Linked DNA regions of Homo sapiens: region 1 is linked to region 2. The links come from fine-mapping of genetic effects on gene expression. A gene starts in region 2. The other region holds a variant in brackets. All regions are shown on one strand. Distances are between the middles of the regions. Region 1 holds the start of LOC105379613 (a long non-coding RNA gene). Region 2 holds the start of LINC02347 (long intergenic non-protein coding RNA 2347).

What was found.
Region 1: its variant is fine-mapped to the expression of LINC02347 in pancreas (GTEx, PIP 0.99).

Annotation. Positions count from the first base shown.
Region 1 is chr12:126,344,721-126,353,059 of GRCh38, forward strand. LOC105379613 (a long non-coding RNA gene) reads left to right here and starts at 5,301. Exons shown (of 3, transcript XR_001749379.1): 1 at 5,301-5,893. RefSeq lists a silencer at 6,611-6,766. The variant A/G (reference allele first, on the strand shown) is at 4,622.
Region 2 is chr12:126,438,735-126,447,073 of GRCh38, forward strand. LINC02347 (long intergenic non-protein coding RNA 2347) reads left to right here and starts at 3,747. Exons shown (of 12, transcript NR_130748.1): 1 at 3,747-3,854; 2 at 4,232-4,293; 3 at 6,151-6,319. It overlaps LINC02825 (long intergenic non-protein coding RNA 2825), which reads right to left. Exons shown (of 4, transcript NR_147498.1): 2 at 6,686-6,836.

The DNA of each region.
Region 1 (8,339 bases), 94 kb before region 2:
AATAAAGGAAGAAAGGAAGAAACACAGAGAGAGAGAGGAGAGAAAGAGATGCATTGTGTATCCTAACTACACTAGAAACAGACAGGGCTGAGTGTGAGAAGAACTTTGTTCTTGGGCTCAAACAGCATTTAGAATCTTTCTTCCTTTTCCTCCTCTCCTTCCTCTCCTCTTTCTGAATCAGTCTCTACACTGCAGTTGCAGACTGGCCTTTGCTAAGCCATAGGAAATACAACTTCTGACAACTATAGGCTCACATGGGAAAGGTTTCACCTTTCAGAAAGGACAGAAGAGTCTTTGCCGTCAGGCTCAGAAAGAAAAACCACAAAGAAGGACTCTGAATGGCTCAGCTTGGGTCATGTGCCCATCCTCGGACCAATCACTGTGGTTTGGAGGATGGGCGTCTGTAATGGCCCTGCCTTGTGTCCATTCGTGATCAGGGTCCTGGATCAGTGTATTAGTTCCTCATTGTTGCTAAAGCAAAATGCCACAGACTCAAGGATTCAGAAAGATGCATTCTCTTATATTTATGGAAATCTGAAGCCCAAAATGGGTGTTACTGGACTAAAATCCATGTGTTGACAGAGCTGCATTCTTTCTGAAGGCTTCAGGGGAGAATCAATTTCCCTAACTTTTTCATCTTCATCTTCTAAATGCCACCAGTATGTCTTAACTCATGGTCCCTTCCTTCATCCTCAAAGCCAAAGTGAAGCATCTTCAAAGCTCTCATTTTCATTGTCTACTTTCATCATCACATCTCCTTCTTTGACGTTCCTGCCTCTCACTTTTTACTCACGAGGACTCTTAGGATGATAATAAGTCCACCTTGATAATCTAGGACAATCTCCCCATCTCAAGAGCCTTCACATAGTCACCTCTGCAAAGTCTCCTTTGTTATGTATGATAACATATTCAAAGGTTCTGGAGATTAGGCATGGACATCTTTGAGGACTGTTATTCTGCCTTCCACCACCTGTTACTAGGGGACAGAGGGCTCCCACACCACTTCAGACATCAGATGCTCCAAAGCAATAGACTCAGATCATGGACTTGATGCCTGAGTGTAATGGAGTGAGTTCCTTTCTTGGAACAGGCAGGTTTTGTATTGGTATCATATGTAGGCCTATTGTATAGTTGGAGATTGATACAAGTGATATTTGCACAGGGGAGAATCAGCACCTATGGCTTGGGGTTTTGTTTATGCTTCTTTAATCAGAAAAGCACTTGCTTGAGAAGGCGAGATCAAGAGTCCTTGTTGCAATGGCCATACCTCAAGGCATCAACTGAGCTTGATTGCTGGAGAGATGTGGCCTCTGGTAGCCAGACCTGCATTCAAAAGTTAGGTGTGCTACCATTTCTTTGAAACTTTCTAGCAGCTTGCATATAGAAATGCAATTTTAAGAAGCATATTCATAATGAAGAAGCCTAGTGATGTAGAATTTGAGATTTGGCCTGGAAAGCCTGTGTTCAAGTTACCACCAGGCCCCGGTGAACGTGATCAAGACTTTTCACCTCTCTGAGCCCAGATTCACCCTCAGCAATCTCCTTGCTCTTTTTCACCACCAGAGGCCCCCTTGGACCTTCTCATAGCCACTCCCTTTCCTACCAGGCCTTCCTTCACCTCTCTCTTTGAAGCAGTGCCCATCCCCATAAGCATTCAGCCCGTCCTCTTCTCTGCTTACCCACTTACTTGTTTATTTATGTCTCTCCCCAGGTAGGTTGTTAGCTTCCTAGAGTGGGGCCTGTCTAGTTGATCCATGTATGTCCAGAGCCTAGAACAGTGCCTGATTAATAGCGGGTGCATAGTAAATATATTTTTAAGAATATAAATGAAAGGTTCAATTTTACAAATAAGACATGTAAAGTCTAGAGATGTTAAATATAGATCCAAATCTAACAAATAGTACAATTTAGATTAAAGCCTGTCTAGTCTTTCCATTTCCTAGTTCTGTGTTCTTTCAATTATATCAGTGTTTTTCCAACTTTATTGATGATGGCCCAAAGAAAAATATACATTTCATATATCATACACACACGTATATGCATAAAGTTAAAGAAGTCATATAGAAAATATTTTCCCTCACTATTATATGAAAATAAAAGTTTTATTTTATATCAAATGTGATTTTATTACTATTGGACTATTTTATCTTTTTTAATTTGAAAGTTGTGATCCACTAAATCGTCGGAATGGACCGGCCATGGTGGTTCACACCTCTAATCCCAGCACTTTGGGAGACCAAGGCGGGCAGATCACCTGAGATCAGGAGTTCAAGATCAGCCTGGCCAACATGGCAAAACCCCATCTCTACCAAAAAATCGAAAAATTAGCTGCGCGTGATGGCATGTGCCTGTAATCCCAGCTACTTAGGAGACTGAGGCAGGGACAATTGCTTGAATCTGAGATGAAGAGGTTGCACTGAGCAGAGATTGTACCACTGCACTCCAGCCTGGGAGACAGAATGAGAGTCTGTCTCAAAAAAATAAAAATGACAATAAATCAATGTAATGACCCACTAATGATCTGGCATCCATAGTTGGGAAATATTCCCTTGTTTTGTTTTTATGAAAGATGTGTGAAATGGACTGTAATAGAGATAATATCTAATTTTTTTCTTGTGTGGGCATTAGCTAGTTAAGGACATTATTCATACTGTCATATGTCTTTGGTTTGCAAACTGTTATTTTGTCTCTTAAACATCTCTTGAATTGATTTCCTTCCTCTGCTACCTATTTGTGTAAATAAAGTTTTAACGAAACACAGCCATGTCCATTCACTCTGCAAGAGCCAAATTGGGCAATTGTGCCAGAAACTGCACAGACCATGAAGCCTATTGTATTTTCTTTCAGGCCCTTTACAGAAAAAGGGCTGCTGACTCTTGGTGTAGCGCCTCCTCCTGGATTGTCCGGATGAGTGCAGGCCCGCATCCCCAGAGCTCACCCCGGGAACAGTGACTGTCCATCAGGGGCTTCCTCAATCACATGCAGGTGTCCTTGCCTGCTCACATGTCTAGAATTGGATAATTTGAAAGAAAAGTTGTATTTTGTCCCATGCTGTGGGTTTTATGCTCAGTATATCAGATCCTTGTGGTTTTAGGAGGAAATGTGAAAAGGTAATGCCTAGCAACAGCACCAGGGTGTCGAAATCATTATCCATGTTCCCTCCCCTGGTCTATCCTGCCCTCGGTGCTCCCATTCCGGTGAGGGGCAGCACAGCTGGGATTGGCTCCTCCTCTCCCTGTGTGGTCTCACAATTCCAGGGTCCATAGGAACCCAACATGATGGAAGTTAGAGGTGTTCATTCAAATATGAAAGCTACTTAACATTTTTTCTTAAATTTGTATACACTTAAGGAGCATAAATGCAGTGTTGTCACATGGATATATTGCACAGTGGTGATGTCTGGGATTTTAGGGTAATCACCACCTAAGTTATGTACATTGTCCCCATTAAGTAATTTCTCATCCCTCATCTCCCTCCCATCCTTCCTCCCTTCGAGTCTCCAGTGACAATTATTCCACATTCTGTGTCTGTGTATACACATTATTTAGTGCACAGAGTACACAGCTCATCTCATTTGACTTTTTCAAGGCTCTTGGGGAAGATGAGGTAGGAGTTGGCATTTATTTTCTGAGTGGAGAGACCAAATGCATGTGATTTGATGAGCCTGGCAGATCTGTACTCACCCCAAGGTGATGACACCTTGCTGCCCTTGACCCATAGACAATGAAGTGGCCAGGCTGTGTGGTTAAGAACAGCAGATAATTCTGTCTCACTGCTGGTGTCACCCATGCACAAAATGCTGGCTGGAGGAAGGGCTGGTGGGTAGTTGTTTTAAGTACGGAAATTGGTTAATGCCCCAAAGCCAATGCATTGAGTTGAGATTCTTCCCATGAAGCGCCGAAAGCTTTTACAAAAGCCATCAATCTCAGCCCAACAAGGAAAGAGAGAGAAGAGGCCCTGGGTTTTGAAGAAGGGAAATTGAGGTGTTTCAGCAGGTCCTAAAACTATACTCAAACCTCAGTCCAGAATGAATGGATTTTCATCTCATCAACATTGGTAGATGCAGCCCATTTAGCATGACATCATAAACTGGAGGAAGAAGAGTGCAGAGAGCTCATTAGCATGAGTTGTCTTGGAAAGCTTTCGGAACAAGTTCTGAATTAATTAAAATTTCATTTGGATGATGAGCACATGGTTATATTTATTTTATTCTCAAGCCTTTCTATAGTAACTGAGGAGGCTCCCCTCTGCAGAATGCCTGATGGCAGTGGCCCTGCCATACATCATTTGGAGGAACTGAGAGGGTTATTTTTAACTCCCCATTATTGAAGAAAACACACACATCTGGAACATTGTGGGGGTGACGATCAGCTGTTCAGATGAGAGATGGTTTGTGGTAGGCCGTGCATCATTTTCTAATTATTTTGACTCTGCTCGTTGCCGTAAACACCTTGGGCATCTAAAATCTGGCCCATTTAATCTCTAAATTGTATGCTCTCAGTCTGTCATGGAGTCTTTGTTTAATGCAATCTCTACTTTTATCAGGCAGTAAAACCAAGACAAATGGAATTCCGGTCAGTGCAGTAGCCTACCGTGGGTGCAGTAGGAGACCCAGCTGCAG[A/G]TGGAGGGTTATGACATGGAAAATGTCTAGGGGGCTTGATGGTAGCTGGGGGTTTGAGAAAAGATGGATAGTTTTGAAGTGAAAAACAATTATTTATTTGCTTACAGTTGCCTAAGGAAGCTTGGAATTTTTTTAAATAGGACCATTTATGAGGTTGACAAAAGAAAGCTCGTTGTGACAATTTTCCATATGAACTTCCGACAGATGGTGTAGAGTGATTACACCGGCCACGCAGGATGGAAGGAAGTCAGCCAGATTCTTGCACCCCCTCATTTTCACAAAGCTGTGGCTCTCTCTGCATCTGGCAGTCTTTTTTCATTGAAACCATCCACTTCATTAATTCCAGGCAGGAGCCTGAATGGTGAATAAAAGCGTAAGAGTGCCTGTTCACTTTTGTGAGGTTGTGTCATGACAACACACACCAGCACTCACAGAGACTCACACAGGTAGCAGATGCCATCGGGAAATTACACCGGAAAAGTCAGTGCTGCCATACGGAGGTCAATTTCATATTTAACTTACATAGGTGGTGCTCTACATTTTGCATTTTATTTTATTTTATTTTATTTTATTTTATTTTATTTTATTTTATTTTATTTTATTTTTCGTGCAGATAATATTTTGCCATGTTACCCAGGCCACTCTTGAACTCCTGGGCTAAAGCAATCCATCCAACTTGGCCTCCCAAAGCGCTGGGATTATAGGCATGGGTCACTGCACACCCAGCCCACAATTTCACATTTTAGTATCTCAGGTCCTTTGTGAATCATTTGACACTACCTCATTATAATAGAATATTCAACTAGAAGATTTTAAACAAGAAAGATTAATTCACATGACAAGAAGCTAAAGCTAGGAAATTTCAGGTTTTGTTCAGCCATCTCCCAGGTCTCCAAGCACCCAGTTCTTTCTATCTTTCTGCTGTACCCACTGCATGTTGGTTGATCCTTGGTCTAGTCTCCTCATGGTCACAGAATGGCTGCTGGAGCTTCTCACAGCATATCATCACCTGCTTACTTACATTCAGAGGCAGAAAACTGGCAAGTTTTACTTTTTTTTATTTTTATTTTTTGTCAGGAAAAAGCTTTACATAAGCCTCAATTAGTGTCTTTCTTAGGTCTGCCTGGACAATATTGGGTCACCTGTCATCTCCAGAGGACCTGGGAAAGTGAATCTTTATTCAGTATCTATTCTGGGATGTGAGCTTGGTCAATCAGGAGGAAAGAGAAGGGGACCTGTGGATGGACACTCAAGAGGCGGCTCCAGAAAAAGGTTTTTAATTTTTGTTTCTCCAGAGAGGGGCCAATGATTAAGCTTCATCCATCATCATCTCTGATATTAATTCATTTACTAGATTCCATTCCTTCTGGAAGGATCTTCAGGTCTGATGAGGCTGGGGAAGGGATTTGGGACCAGTAAAGCAATGAGGTGGGGTGGGGAGAGTTCCTGGCAGGGCTGGGCTGGAGCTGTCAGTCAAAAGGACAAGGTTGTGCAGAACTGCTGTGTGGAGGAGAACAGAGGCCTGAATGCAGCATGCTGACCTGTTGTGTTCAAACTGTTCAGAAACAACTTTTTTTGGTTTTTTGAGACGGAGTCTCACTCCGTCACCTAGGCTGCAGTGCAGTAGTGTGACCTCGGCTCACTGCAACCTCCACGTCCTGGGATCAAGCAATTCTCCTGCCTCAGCCTCCTGAGTAGCTGGGACTACAGGCGCCCACCACCACACCTAGTTAATTTTTTGTATTTTTAGTAGAGACGAGGTTTCACCATTTTGGCCAGGTTGGTCTTGAACTCCTGACCTTACATGATCCATCTGCCTCAGCCTGCCAAGTGCTGGGATTACAGGCATGAGCCACTGAGCCCGGGCCAGAAACAACTTTAAAAAGTCATGGTTTAACAAAATTAGAAGCTCTCATATATGCAAATGAAAATTCCAAATTTTGGCCTCTTGTGAAAAATACAGAAGACAGGAGATACTGGGTCTGTGTCCTGGAGGCAGCACCTGAGGGGACATCTGTCATGGCCTCAGATCCAGGCGCACCACCATCCCCCTACCCTCACACCTGTGTCATGGCCTCAGATCCAGGTGCATCACCATCCCCCTACCCTCATACCTGTGTCATGGCCTGGGCTCCAGGTGCACTGCCATCCCCCTACCCCTCACACCTGCTCCCCAGGACTCCATCTTCCTGAAACATATGCCACTCCTGCCTCTCTCCTGGGTTGGGTAAACCAAGAGACTCAAGAGACAGCTGCCATTTGGAAGAGGGTCACCTGGAGCAGGCCCATGGCAGAAGCCCAATCAGAAATGCTGCTTCCTGCAGCTCATGGGGAGCTTCCTGCAGAGCTCCAGGCTCTGGGGCCATGGAGTAAAATGGCGTTGCCCACACAATCCACAAGGGTGCCTGTCGTGTTGTGCTCTGTGAAAGGCCTCACCTGCAGCACTGATTCCTGGACCCTGTGAAGAGGGGGTCTTTATGATTCCCGTTTTATAAATGAGAAGGCTGAGGCATGGGAAGTTGAGTCACTCTCCTTCATAACCAAAGGAGGACTCAGTCCCAGGCCTGTGTGACCTCAGCTGCCAAGACCTGGCCAAGAAACCTGATTCCAGAAACAGGAGCAAACACTAGCTTCAGCCTCTGGTGGACCTGGCCCAATGCTGGGTGGAGATCTCAGGGACCTGACTGGTCTTTTAGGGTGTAAAAGGGGGAACCAGTGGGTCAGGGAAGAGGGAGGATGGAGGATGAGGGACCATGGCAAGGTTGAGTCCAGTGTGATGCCTCCTATGTAGAGAGACCCCATCTGTGGGGGGGTCATGGCTGCCCACCTCATGGTGGTTCTGATGGCAAATGGGCAAATGTAGTGGTGATCTCAGGGCAAGTGCAGGCACAGTCAGTGCTCAGGAATGGCAGCCTATGAGCTGGCTACATTTCTCTTAAAATCACCAATTTCATTGTTGCCCAGCATGCCATCAGCCTATAGAGTCAGGTGCCCCAGATATTAAATCCCTGTTAATTAAGAGGGTCAAGTTATAAGTTCATTCACCAAACACTTGGTAAGCAAGTCTGAAGTAACAGCATATGCAAGCGCAAGGAGCACAAATATTATAACCTCTTACAGGAAAATAAACACACAAAAAACATACAAACAGGTCCCCATTAATATGGCCCCAAACGGCTAATGGAGATTCATTCTTATCTAATTATTAAAAGGGTTGTTTGTCAATGTTGGTCAATCTTATTTGAATTACCATGGCTACTATACACGACAGTACAAATCATTTTTTTTTTACAAAATTTGATAATTCAAGCGTTAATAAACATAGTCTTGTTTCCCTTAATTGATTAGCATTAAAGAGATTTAGCTGAACTTTTGAGCCCTCCTTGGCATTTTCTTTGTAAAAGACGCATAAGACTCCATAAAGAGGGAATCTGTAGCATTAATTGATGCTTGTTCATACTCCAACTTACCAGGCACATGTCTACTCCCCCAGAAGAACTTAGTCTTTCTTGTTAACATGAAATCTTAAGTTAGGTAAAAGGATAACAAGAAGATGTCTACCCTACAGTTAAGATTTGTGTGCCAGGCTGGGCGTGGTGGCTCACACTTGTAATCACAGCACTTTGGGAGGCTGAGGCAGATGGATCACAAGGTCAGGAGTTTGAGACAAGCCTGACCAATATGGTGAAACCCCATCTCTACTAAAAATACAAAAAAT
Region 2 (8,339 bases):
TAGGATGAGAGGGGCTTTCTCTGCTCCACGATGTTTGGATCCTTGGCTGGGATGTCACAAATAGTGGTGACTCAACTGGGATCACACACCTCAGGCCTCTGTGGTCACTGGCGGCCTGGTTACTTGGGTCATCCCTATCCACATGGCTTGTGTGAGCTTCCTCACGGCATGGCAGCCGCATAGTGGCTGGAGTTCTTACACAGTGCCTGGTTTTCCCCAGAGAGAAAGCAAAAGCTGTTGGACCTCTTATAGACGGTGACTGGAATCATCACAGTGACCCGTTACCACCTTCTCTTGTTCAAGGTAAGTTATACTGCTAGCCCAGATACAAAGGGAGGAGAAATTGACTCCCTTTCTTAACAGTTTGAGTGTAATGTGCGTAGAAAGAGGAATAATATTTATGATAGCCATCTCTGGAAACTATCATAACAATTAGATCTCTTATTAAAAAATTAATATAAGCATTTGATAAAAAATTCAAATCGTGTAGATATATCTACTGCATCCAATGCTAAGAGATCTTTGTGATTTATGCACTGTGCACTTGCATTGCATAGAGAGAGGGAAGATGTGGGATTTCTTTTTGCCCAAATAGAAACATACTATATATGCTCTTCTGCACTTTATTTTTATATGGGGGCAGGATGTAGGTCTGATTAACTTTTGCATTTCTGCCATACTGCCAAGTCTATTTGTGGAAATGTGTTTTTTAGTAATGTTTTCCAAAGGTATTAAATTAGGAGACACAAACTCCAATGCCCATAGCAGCCTAACAAGTGATATAAATGAGTGTCAGAAACCAGGCTAAGGCAATTGGGAGTGGTGGGGACTGCGGTGTCCTGAAGATCTAATGCCACCTCTGAGGCAAGCAGCTGCTACTCTGCTCCTGGCCTTTGCTGCTATGCAGAAACACAGGCCCAGCATTGCCACATCTTCTAAACTTTTAAAGAGTAGCCTGAAACCCAGGACCCTGCATATAAAACCCCCTGAACTTTGGCTATTGAAAACCAATGTGATTTTAAAAGCAATGACATGTAGGCCAAGAAAATATACCTATAGGCTGCATTCAGCCTTGAGTCCGCCAATTTACACCTTCTACAATGTTCTCATTGAGGAACCCCAGTGGGTACCATGACTCCCTCCTTCTAAGCTGTCTTTCCTAGGTTTCATCTTCCCACATATGGGCAATGTTAGAGGCACTTCTGCCTCATTTTATAAAATTTGGCCATTTTCTACCAGGCCTTAAAGAGAAGAAGAGATGGAGTTAAGTGAGAAAAATATGGCTATGTGGGGAGTAAAGTGAATATTCCAAAAGTAAGTATCCTCTGGGATTGAAGAACGAACGAAGTGGACAATTATTCAAGTGACTCTTCTGTCTAAACTGGCCTTGGGTAAGAAAATATGCCCGTAGGCTGCTCTGTATTTTTCTACTCTGGGTGGCCTAGCAGCCTACCTGGCCCAGGTGATGGCTTTCAGGGACCACACTTTAGCTGGGCAATGCACAGCTTTTCCGGGTTGTTATGTACAATTTCAGACTAACCCTCAAGGTCTACCCAGGATGATTAATCTTGAAATAATTTCAGATGCCATTTATTATGGCTTGGAGCTTAGGAATATCTTCAGACCCATTGATGGGAACACTGACTCCTGAGCACAGTCATTTGAGGTGTCTTTAAACAGAAAATTTCAATGTTATCTCAGTTGGGACACACTTTTTCAAAAGCACGATCGGTTGCCAAGAATAACAGGACTTCATATTGCAGAGTGAATTCAGAGGATCAAACTCCAGGAGCCTTCGGATGTCTGATTATTGGATCATCCTGTCTGGCTGCATAAGATGCATCCACGATATTTACTTGGTGCCCACAATATTCCAGGATTGTCCTAGTTGCTTATACGTATTTGTTCTGATTTTATTGGTGTGTAAAGGAGCCCTTGCCATCTTTTCTTTTTTTTTCTTTCTTTCTTTTTTTTTTTTTTTGAGACGGAGTCTTGCTCTGTCACCCAGGCTGGAGTGCAGTGGCGCAATGTCGGCTCACTGAAAGCTCCGCCTCCCGGGTTCACGCCATTCTCCTGCCTCAGCCTCCCGAGTAGCTGGGACTACAGGTGCACGCCACCACGCCTGGCTAATTTTTTATATTTTTAGTAGAGACGGGGTTTCACCGTGTTAGCCAGGATGGTCTAGATCTCCCGACCTTGTGATCCGCCCGCCTCGGCCCTTGCCATCTTTCTACTTGAAAATGAGATTGAAAGTTGTTTCAGCTCAGATCTGAACTAAACACTTTTTATGAACCAAAAGTTCCCACCCGCGGGGCTTAAGAGTTGCATTAGTGCCAAATAATTGACTTAATTATTTTTAGCTTAATGAAAAATGTCTCATTTTCTACTTGATTGATTGATTCTGTATCCTTTTAAAAATTTTTTTGGTATGACACAACTGTCTGAACTATGTCTAGCTCTGTTTATATTCTGACTTGGAGGAATTCTGGGAGCCAAATCATAGCTAAACGTGTGAATCTTCACTAATCGAAATGGGTGGAATTTTCTGTAAAGATGCAAACTGGCTTGACTGTGTCCAGTTATTGCTCCTGAATCCTAACTGCAGTGAATGGAGGGAGGGGCAGTGTACTACGCGAGAGGGTGGGTCCTGAAAACTAGACATCCCTGGGTGCTAGCCCTGTGTTGAACCTCTTTCTCGTGCAGATTTGGACAAATATTTATTCTGCACTTTAGTTTCCTTATCTGTAAAATGAATATGATAAGAATTATGTTTACTTACAATATAAACCTCTTCAATGAGTAGAAGCAGTGAGAGACATAGTATAAGTAATCAATACACGCTAAATGTCTCAGAAGTCATCTTAGAACATTAGTAGAATGTATTTTTTATAGTTTGATTTTAAATTCACAAATAGTAACTGTATATATTTATAGAACAAAATGTGATGTTTTGATACCTGTATACATGGCGGAATGATCCAATTAGGCAACTTAGTATATCATCACCTCAAATATGTATCATTTCTTTGTTATATGAACATTACGTGTTTTTGGACTAAGTGAAACAGAGACTGTTTGGAAAGCCATAGAAAGTAGCCACCCTCTTTTTATCCTCACACCAAAGAAAAGCTGACCACTTGCTAACCAGCCCACTTATTTCACCTTAAAGTAAATTGAATCTGGAACCCTGGATCATTCTATGAAATTTTCCAAAAAGCTAGTCAGAGGCCGGGCACCGTGGGTCACACCTGTAATCCCAGCACTTTGGGAGGCTGAGGCACGCGGATCACCTGAGGTCAGGAGTTCGAGACCAGCCTGGCCAACATGGTGAAACCCTGTCTCTACTAAAAATACAAAAATGAGCCAGGCTTGGTGGCGGGTGCCTGTAATCCCAGCTACTCAGGAGGCTGAGGCAGAATAGCTTGGTCCCGGGAGGCAGAGGTTGCAGTGAGCTGAGATCCCGTCATTGCACTCCAGCCTGGGTGACGAGAGTGAAACTCCATCTCAAAATAATAATAATAATAATAATAATAATAATTAAAATCTAGTGAGAAAGCAAAGTAAACTCAAGGAAGTCCTGGCTTTGCGATTTTGTTTTGTTATTCCTAAGCACTGCCTCACCTGCTCTAGCGTGGGAGCTGAGTCGTCAAGGGGAAAGACAATGAAATTGCTCTAAGTTATCATCTCTCCAGGCATTGTTCTGTAATAACTGTCACTGTTAACAGAAGAGGCCTCCCTCCTGCAGTGGGAATACCAGGGGTGGGCACTGTCAAGAGACCCAGCTTTGACTTCAAATGCCACCCAGAGGGACAACTGCTCACTTTCAGAGCAGGAGCAGGAGGCCAGAGGAGAGTGTGAGTCTAACATCTGCACAGTGAGAAGTCCAGGAGAAGCAAAAATGAGATCCAGGCTGGAGCGGCTGTGCCAGAGTAACTGTTCCAGCGGGTGTGGGGGAGGGTCCCCCAAAAAGACTTACCTGGACTGAATGGGAAATAATAGAAAATAGGAGCAAGAGACTGTCACTTTATAATAGGTTCTGTTATGACCTCCTACAACAATATGTTAGAAATTATGATTTCTAATATGTCTATGATACAGATAGACATATAGTTAGAAAACTAAATAAAGAGACAGATTTTGAGCTAGGTATACTTACAGATACAGACATTGATATCATAGATAAACATGTTCTTTATTTTTATATTGTCAATGTTTGTGTTGCTGGAAAAAGGGGTCCCTATGATCCAGACCTCAAGAGAGGGTTCCTGGACCTCCCACAGAAAGGGATTCAAGGTGAGTTGTAGAGTGTAGTGAGAAGAGATCATTTATTGAAAATTCTTCAGATTCAGAGTAGGGTGTCCTCAGAAAGCAAGAGGAGGAATGCCCTGTCTTTGTTTTAAACTCTTCTTACACAGGGGTCTCATCTACATAAAAGCTAAGCTATCTCTGTGTGTGGGTGGGCTGACAATGTGACAAGATGTAGTACTTTGGCCATTTAAAGAAAGTTATCCTTGGCATTTTAGTTTATAAGTACATGAAAGCATGATTGTACATTTCTTAAAAGCATATATTGTTATGTGATATTGGGACATGTGGACTTTCTGCTGTTGTAGGAGTTTGTCCTTGCAGGCATTGCCAAGCGGTTTCCTCTGCAGTAAACATCTTATGACCACGGGTCATAACTGGCAAGGAATGTGTGTTGCGAGTTTAAAGATGGAGTTAATTTTAAAATGGTGACACCTGGCTCTCTAGGCGCCTGCTTTTCTAACTTTTCTAGGTATAAACCTAATCTTCCTTGCTAGATCACAACCTCCAATGATCTATTTTTCATCTTCAGTTGTCCCAAGCACTAGCTTGTTCTGCGAGCGTCTCGTGGTCATGGAAAACTGATAAAGCACAGCATGAGAGGCTCAATGGATAAGAAATTATAAAGAATCACTAAATTTGCATAGGTGTTTTGATTGTGACCTACCGAGGAAGGAAGTGGAGAGGGTGTGTGGGAGGGAGGACAGCAGATGTGTAGACACGGCTTCATTTGCCTCCCACCGGGAATTTTGCCCGAGACTTATGGAGAGAATGGCCATTGGCAGAGACTGAAAGAGTTGATTTGATTCTCTGAGGCCTGATGCACTTGGTGAATTGTTTTGGGGTCTCTGTGGCATTAGGATAGGGGCTTTTTTTCTTTTTGTTTGTTTTGTTTTGTTTTTTTGGTCAAATGTCCTGTGTTTCAGGTTTCAACCAAGACTTTGGGAAACCAGGACTACTTGAAACCCTGATGGACTGCAGTGTTCAAAGAAGGAGGGAACAAAACCCTCTGGAAACCTCTGGAATTAGTGGCTGGGAAATAGCCCTTGGTTACTCTATGGACAGCAGATGTCCCAGACAGAGCCAGAGCCTAAGAACATGGGAGGTTTTTTCGTTGTGGTTTTTGTTTCTGTTTTGAGACAGAGTCTCGCTCTGTCACCCAGGCTGGAGCACAATGGCATGATCTGGGCTCACTGCAACCGCTACCTCCTAGGTTTCAGCGATTCTCATGCCTCAGACTCCCGAGTAGGTGAGATTATAGGCGCCCACCATCACGCCTGGTTAATTTTTATTTTTTATAAAAATGGGGTTTCACCATGTTGGCTAGGCTGGTCTCAAACCCCTGACCTCCAGTGATCCACCTGCCTTGGCCTCCGAAAGTGCTGGGATTACAGAGCCGCTGTGCCTGGCTAACATGGGAGGTTTTTAAATATCTGTGTTTCCAGAATGAACCGGTGAGTCTTTGAAGTCCTTGTATGAACAGGACTGGGCACAAGTCAACCAGAATAATTTGCAGACATGCAAGCTGTTTGTATCCAGCGGATCAATAGCAACCTGTTTTAGCTTTCCATCTTTCTTTAAGGAAATGTCCTATCTCCAATACTACTGTGAAATTCTAGAGCATAAGAAGAGAATAAAGTCTTGATGTACGGTTTGGTTGGTAGGCAGAGCTCCACCCCACCATCTCCTTGGTGACAGTGCCCCACTCGTGAGAAGGGTACTGTTTCTTCCCTGGTGTTAGTGTTACCTAGTATAATGCCTATGTGACATAGCTGAATTTCTACCCTATCCTAACTCTGCTACTCTTTAAGGATGCCTGCAATAAAAAGTTCCCTTTTTAACCAGACCAGCTGAAACTGATTAGAGCCAAGATAGCCAACCAAATGACTTCAGGAAGACCTCAGGCTTCATTATCATCTCATTTCCATGCTAAAAAAACCCAGCTCCCTAGAACAATGGGAAATATTGGGCACTTCATCAGGCGAGTTCAGGTGCATTTCTAGAGATTGTCCAGGTGAGTCAAAGAGCAAATGCCATGAAGTAGCCTCAGCCCTTTGGGTCATGGGAAACCATTTTTGAAATAATATTACATATTTGTCAGAGTTTGAGCTGGGCAAGGGATTAGCCTTTTCTCCAACTTCACAATCAGATTAAGAGGAAACAAAGCCTCAGGACAAATTCTGCCATACACATGAGTATTTGATAATTAATACATATTATCAATAGGAACACAGCGGTCCATACATTCTGTAAACTGTACGATACCCAGATCCTCTATCCTTGTAAGTGATCCAACTACACATTCTGTAATGGTCTCTCAGGCTGCAATAACAAAATGACACAGCCTGGATGGATTAAACAACAGAAAGGTATATCTCATAGTTCTGGAGGCTGGAGGTCAAAGACGAAGGTGGGGTGCTGGCTGGCTCAGTTTCTTCTGAGGTCCCTCTGCTTGGCGTGCAGATGCCACCTTCGTACTGTGTCCCAGCTTGGTCTCTTCACTGTGCGTATCTCTCATGTCTCTTCCTCTTCTAGGAACACAAATCAAACTGGATTAGGCTCCATTGTTAGGACCTCCGTTAATCTTCATTAGTTCTTTAAAGGACCCTATATCCAAGTACAGTCACATTGGAGGTTCAGACTTCAACACATGAGGCCTGGCGTGGTGGCTCATGCCTCCAATCCCAGCATTTTGGGAGGCCAAGGTGGGTGGATCACCTGAGGTCAGGAGTTCGAGACTAGCCTGGCCAGCATGGTGAAACCCTGTTTCTACTAAGAATACAAAAATTAGTTAGGTGTGGTGACACATGCCTGCAATCCCAGCTACTTGGGAGGCTAAGGCCGGAGACTTGCTTGAATCTGGGAGGTAGAGGTTGCAGTGAGCAGAGACCACCTCACTGCACTCCAGCCTGGGGAACAGAGCAAAACTCCATCTCAAACAACAACAAACAACAACAACAACAACAAAAAGAAAACAAAGACTTCAACACATGAGTCCTTCAACACATAACACATGCCATAAAAGATCCCCATGGGACAGTTATGACAATGTTCTAAAAGAAGAAATCCATCACAGTTGGCATCTGGCAACCTGAATTTGCCATCTCAGTGACTGGATGGAGGGTGGTTTAGGGGTTTGACTTCATGTGCTCTCCCTACAAGTATAGAGTATGGGGCTTATGAGATGGTGAGACCTTGTTTTGCAGGTGTGAGGAGTGACTGATTCAGTTTATTCCATCTGCCTTTCTCGTCAATGAAAGCCCATTTTCTACATCCATGTTGCTAGAGAACACACCACTACACTTTCCAAGGAAATAGCATTTCTAGATGAATTACACTAGCTAGTGAGACCTCCAGTGTTGAGCAGACATAGAAAATGGCAGCTGACAGGCTTTAGTGAGAACTTCTGGACTGTGGACTTTCTAATTGGGCATTTGCTAATCAATGCAGGAATGTGAGTGTTTGATTACTGAAACTGCTACCCCAGGAGGTGAATTAAAACTAATTACCTTCATAGAAGCAGAGAGTATAAGGATGGTTGCCAGGGCCCGCAGGGAAAGGAAAATAGGGAGATATTGGTCAAAGGGTACAAAATCTCACTTATGCAGGATAAATAAGTTGTGGAGATCTATGTACTGCATTGTGACTATAGGTAATAATCCTGTATTATATACTAGAAATTTGCTAAGGATTGAAATATTAAATGCTCTCACTAAACACACACACACACAATGGTAATTATGTGAGATGAGATATGTTAAATAGCTCGATTGTGGTAATTATTCCACAATGCATATGTATTTCCAAACATCATGTTGTACACCTTAAATGTCTACAATTTTATTTATCAATTGTATATGGATAAAGATAGAAATTTAAATAAAATATATACTCTTTTACATCGCATTGTCAGAACTAAAGAAGAAAGGAGACTTCCAACATCATGACATGAATCGTTTCTGATGATGTCTAAATCTCCTCACAATTCCAACATCAGTTCCACTTTCCTTGAGAAAAATAAACCAGAATCTTTG